Linked DNA regions of Homo sapiens: region 2 is linked to region 1. Evidence: fine-mapped expression QTL. A gene starts in region 1. The other region holds a variant in brackets. All regions are shown on one strand. Distances are from middle to middle.

Region 1 (2,910 bases):
ACAGGGAGCTGTTTTATTTAAGGGGATATATATCTTCCTCTCCACTGAGTTTCCCCTGCACAAACCTGATCGGAAGATAAAAAGTGTTAGAAAAATTTGAGAGACACAGGTACTAGCTTCTATCGTGTCATTAACCTGAAGTATGGCTTGGGTAAATCATTTAATATCATACTTTCTAAAATGAGATTAAAGTCCATTCTTCTGATTTCTTGGGCACACACTTATCGTAACAGATACATGTTCTACATGGCACCCAGCTATGTGCCTCAAAGGGTTATTACAAAGTCCATGTAGCGCCATTGACAGTGACACTAAAAGAGAGAAAACTTGGTCAAAGGAAAGGTGTTTGACCTTAGATTTGCCAGATTCTGGTTGCACAGGTGATCACACTTCTGCTTGTATATCCTGTATGTATATTACTAATTGGTTAATACACAGGTGCTGGGCTAAGAAAACTTTCTGAGGCATTTTTCCAAGAGTGTGAACAGAATTGAGAGAAACCTTATGACATACACGGGTCAGTTAATTTAACATCAGCAGGTCATTTGTGTGCCCACAGTGTGGGGCAGCTGTAGTTTCTCCTTTGAGGATCCTTAAAAACAATGTGAATTGGGGGAAGGCACAGTCATAGTTATATACAGGCATTTGCATTTTAGGGCTTGACCAACTAAAAAGCCATGTATCAGTAAATGAACGCGTATCAGCAAACACTTAAGTACATTATAAATGCCAAAAGTTCCTTGAATTGTTACTTCAGGGTCTTCACAGTTAAGAGTACCCATATCCTACCTTATTCTTGCTTTACTGATTAAAAAAAAAAAAAAAAAAAAAACCTGAGGCAAGGCAGGGGGACACAGACTTAGGATGTAATCAACAGAGGAAGAAATAAGAAATCCACCTTTTAAGCGCCGCACAGCACCCACAGAACAAGATTGCTTTCGTCTCAAAAAGTCTAAACGCGAGGAAGAAAGCTAACTTTCACACCTGTTCCTTTCGACTGTGGGGTGGGTGGCTGGGGTTGTGGGAAAAACGAGACATCTGGACAAAGTGGGAGAGGGTCAGGCTCGAAGTCCAGGAAGAGGCCTAGAGAAGGGAGTGAAGCGACACGACGTGCTGCGGGGGAGAAGGGACCTTCAGGTCCAGGCAAAGGGGGAACTTCTGTCGTGGGAACGAAAAAGAAAGAGGATTTACAGGGTGGGGGGACAGAGGGGCAGCAGGAACCAGAAGGGAGACAGTGGCGGTCGCGGCGGGGCCGATCCGAGAGTTCCCCTTAGAGAACGGAGCTCACGGGCGGGGAGGCCTCACCTGCTAGTAGGACGCAGAAAGACAGAAGGCGAAGGAGACCCCGACTTCCCGGGTCAGCCCCAGAGCCACCCCCTGCCGTAGCCATCTTGCCTCTCTGCTGAGCGGAAGCCCCCGTTCGGCTCCTGTCTGTTAGCGGCCTCTCTAGGCTACCACTGACACCGTCTCTGTGGCCCGGAGCCTAAGAGACCGGAAGTTCGTGTTTCCAGGCGCTTCCGGAAACCGCGGGAGAGGGTCGCTGACGTGGAGGCGTCCGAAGGGCAGCAGGGTGTGTCGGGGCTCGGATTAAGACATCGGAGTCGGAGACCTGAGAGATGTTAACCAAATTCGAGACCAAGAGCGCGCGGGTCAAAGGTAGTGGAGAATAAAAGGGGGAACATGGAGGTTGGATGTCAGGAGCGGCGCTGACACCGGGGAAGAGAAAATGGGTAGAGGTGTTGGTCGAAATGGGCCCACCAGACGGACCCGGAGGAAGACGGAGGGTGGGAGAGAGGTTGGGCCTGGCTAGCGGTTCTCCAGTCCCCTCTTCTTTGGTGTGTCCTTGGGCTTCGATTTACCTATAAAGTGGCTCCCACACTGCAGGGGATTCCTTAGACCCCCTCCCTATTCTTTCTTCCCCCTTTCTCTCTTGGCTGTGCTCCCGATTTGTGTTGTTCTGCTCCAAAGGCCCTGTGATCTGTTGGCTTTTTGATGACTGTGTTATATGGAGTGGCCCTGGGAACTGAGTCTCGATCTCTGTTACTCGCACCCGAGTCAGTAGCCTTTTTGGAGACGAGTAGTGGCAACCTCACTTAAGGAGGCCTTGGCTGCAGCATCTCAACATCAGTGCCTCCATTCGGCTTTATTTACTACCCGGAAATAGTACTTGAGGCTTATAACCCCAATAAAGTCTCAACTTGATAGAGTTGCCAGATAAAATGCAGGATACCCAGTTAAATTTGAATTTCAGGTAAACAATGAATAGTTTTTTAGTCTGTCGTTGCTTACCAGAAGTTCAAATTTATCTGGAAATCTCGTATTTTTATTTGCTAAGTACGGCAGCTCTAGAGCTCGAGTGTGGGTCGTTGGGGGTGGAGGGCAAATACTGAGATCGCAGTATTAGCCTCAGAACGTTAGAATGTGAAAGTCAGAGAAGTAAGGTCTCCGAAGACCTGGAAAAAATAGTATCTAGAATATTTAGTGAGATGCAGCGTAACAAAGTGGTTAGGAACTTGGTCTTTGAAGTCAGATGGGCTTGCCTTGGAATCCTGAGACATCCACTAACAAGCTGTGACTTGGATGACTTACTTAATGTCTCTAAGTCTGTATTTCCTCATCTGTAAAATCGTCTTTTATAGAGAGTATTAAAATGAGAAAGTATATGGAGTGTATTTATTACAGCGCCTGGTGTAGACTCAGTAGCTCAAAAACTGGAGGTTGTTATCAATGTGTGAATATATTCTGAGCAGTTTCTAAGTCTCTTGGGAAACTTGACCTTGAAAGATGGGTACCATTAAGAATTTCTGAGACCTGTATAGGTGAAATGTGAAATGGGTCTTCATAATCTTTCAGTTTTCTTTTCTGCTCCTAATTTCTTGCTGGGCAGTACAGAAGGAAAAACAAAGATGT
Region 2 (2,910 bases), 35 kb before region 1:
CAGAGGGAGACTCTGTCTCAAAACAACAAACAAAGAAACAAACAAACAAAAAAAAGAAAACATGTTCAGAGATTTGAAGTAACTCACCCCAGGTCACACTGAAATCCATGTGCTAGCAGATAGATGATTTCAGTAAAGTTCAATGTGGTGAGTGCAATGATAGAGATATGCATAGAAAGACCAGGGAGCACACCAGGAGCCAAGCTGGGGCTATAGGAGAGACACACCAAGTTGGGGTACTTTTCTGAAGGCAAGGACATCTGCATTGTCTTGAAGGATGAATAGGACTCGTATAGGTGAAGTACAGGAGGAGGAACAACGGGAGCAAAGGAACGGCAGTCAGGAGTAACATGGACTGTGCCAGAGAGCTTTGAGTGCCTTCGAATTGTTAGAGCAAAAAGTACAAAGGACAGAATGGCCGATGGGGCTGGACAAACTGGCAGGAGCTGCACTGTGAAGGGACTTTCATACCATGTTGAAGAACTTGGGTTTTATCCTGGGGAAATAATGGGGAATCATTAAAAGGATAGTGTAGAAGTGTCCTGGTTCAGTTTGCATTTTGGGTAGCTAAGTCTGAGGGCAGCCTGAAGGGTGGACCTACGGGGAGGAAGCCGAAAGGCAGGGAGACTAGCTAGGCCACCGCAATAGTCCAGGTGAAGAAAAGCATTGGTAGAACTGGTAGAAAAACAGAAGTCATGTTTAGGAGGTAAAATGAATAGCTACTGATGATGGATTGGAGGTGAGACTAGAGGGAAAAACATGTAGCAATAGTCACGGCAACTGAATGTTGATGATACCATGTTTTGCCGTGGGGATACCAGGAGAGGAGGAGGGTTGAAGAGGGGAGAAGATAAGGTGGCCAGTTTGCAACATGTGGCGTTGGACATTCCTGGGAGATATCCTAGTAAAGAGGTACAACTTTTCAGCTACAAACCCAGAAAGCCAACTTCCTTCTGGGCAGCTCCACGGGAAGGCTCCTGGGGGGCTTTCATTCAGTTTGTCCTTATTACACCACCTTACTGCCACCATCTCCACCACAATTCTCCACAACGTTCCTCTTCCTACGTGTGCTACTTTGGAAAGTAGCACCACTGT[A/G]CACCCAGGCTCCCAGGCCAGAAACCTGGGAGTTCTCCTCTAGCCTGCCACATTTAATGAATCACGACATCCTGTTGAATCTACCATTTAAATAGCTTCCTAAATCTGTCCTCCCTTCCCCATTCCTACTGCCGCTACCTAAATACAGACCCTCAGCTTCTTGCAGCTGACTTTGCGATAGCCTCCTAAAACTGTTCCCTGCACAGAGCTTACCTTTACGCAGCTATGATCAGAAATGTCCTAAAAGTGGCCAGGCGTGGTGGCTCTCACCTCTAATCCCAGCACTTTGGGAGGCCGAGGCAGGCAGATCATTTGAGGTCAGGAGATCGAGACCAGCCTGGCCCAACAGGGTGAAACCCCGTCTCTACTAAAGTACAAAAAATTAGTCGGGCGTGGTGGTGCCCGCCTGTGCTCCCAGCTACTTGAGAGGCTGAGGCAGGGGAATTGCTTGAACCCAGGAGACGGTGATTGCAGTGAGCCAAGATCACCCCACTGTACTTCAGCCTGGCGACAGAGCAAGACTCCATCTCAAAAAATAAATAAATAAAAAATTAGCCGGGTGTGTTGGTGCACACCTATAATCCCAGCTACTTAGGAGGCTGAGGCAGGAGAATGACTTGAACCCAGAGGCAGAGGTTACAGTGAACCGAGATTGCACCACTGCACTCCAGCCTGGGTGACAGAGCAAGACTCTCTCTTAAAAAAAAAAAAAAGAAAGAAAGAAAGAAAGAAAGAAAGAAATGTTCTGAAAGTGATATTTCTAAAGTGTACATCTGATGATAGTGTTTATCTACCCCACTAGAGAATGTTCATTGGTTTCCCATCACTGTGTGGCCAAGCACACACTCCCTATTATGCTTCTCCTGACCTGGCCCCTGCTTACCTCTCCAGACCATTCCGTCACTTTCCTGTCCCACCAGCCCCTTGCACTTAATGTCCCAACAATACCACACTGCTAATAGTGTGCTCTTGCTCACCAGAGCTTCTCAGGGTTCCATGCCTTCATACCTACAGTGCCTTTCCTTTGTAGGTGGGGTTCCCTGGGAAGTGGATTCCTGAACTCTGAGATCGTATACAGGAGAGTGCCAGCAGGAGAGTTCTTGAGAACACCTGTGAGGTGTGAGGGAAGCTGCAATAAGCCGAGAGAGAAACTGAAAAGCAATGCAATGGCAACAGAGGCTTCTGTCCATCCCATGGGGGCTCTCAAGCTGGGATAACTTTGTAACCCCACATCAACCAGTCATTGCCCTAGGGAAAGAGCAACACCTCAGGCAAGGCGGCTTTCTTCCTCCAAAGGCAATTCCTGGAGAGGGACTCAGCTGTGAGTCAACACTTCCACAGCTGGAGAAGTGAGTGGAGCACACCACAGAATTCACTGTACGTATCTCATGGTCTTCAAAACCCAGCTCAGAGTTTACCGGCTGCCTTCCTCACCAACACCCTCTCTCAGGTAATCACTCGCTTCCTTGCAGATGCCTCTCACTGTTGGGAAACTGATATGTTTACATGCCTGTCTCCCATACTCCCTCCCAAGTAGGTGGTGGGGAGGGCCTGATCCTGTATTTCAGAATCCAGAACAGTGCCCGGTATACATTGGCTATTCCATAAAGGCATGCTGCACTGAATAAATTGAAATCAACCAATGAAAGAGGTAGCTACAAGCTTATAAAAGAAGGAGGCTGGAGTTTAATGCTAGAAAGGATAAAAGGGACATAGACAGTAGAGATTCTCACTTGGGAACCACACTGGAGACCCTGCTTGGGAGGCCCAAGAGTCCCAGGTTAGAGCGAATCAAGGCTCTGAGCTTGGGATGTC

Evidence for each region. PIP is the estimated chance that this variant, and not a neighbour inherited with it, causes the effect.
Region 2: its variant is fine-mapped to the expression of NCSTN in whole blood (INTERVAL, PIP 0.98).

The regions. Positions count from the first base shown.
Region 1 is chr1:160,341,877-160,344,786 of GRCh38, reverse strand. NCSTN (nicastrin) reads right to left here and starts at 1,404. Exons shown (of 17, transcript NM_015331.3): 1 at 1,306-1,404; 2 at 1-65. The coding sequence starts at 1,390. COPA (coat protein complex I subunit alpha) reads left to right here and starts at 1,537. Exons shown (of 33, transcript NM_004371.4): 1 at 1,537-1,656. The coding sequence starts at 1,617. RefSeq lists enhancers at 1,335-1,384, 657-1,604.
Region 2 is chr1:160,377,276-160,380,185 of GRCh38, reverse strand. LOC105371466 (a long non-coding RNA gene) reads left to right here. Exons shown (of 4, transcript XR_007066686.1): 4 at 2,126-2,771. Among named protein-coding and RNA genes, the nearest start is that of NHLH1, 12 kb to the right of the region's middle. The variant A/G (reference allele first, on the strand shown) is at 1,096.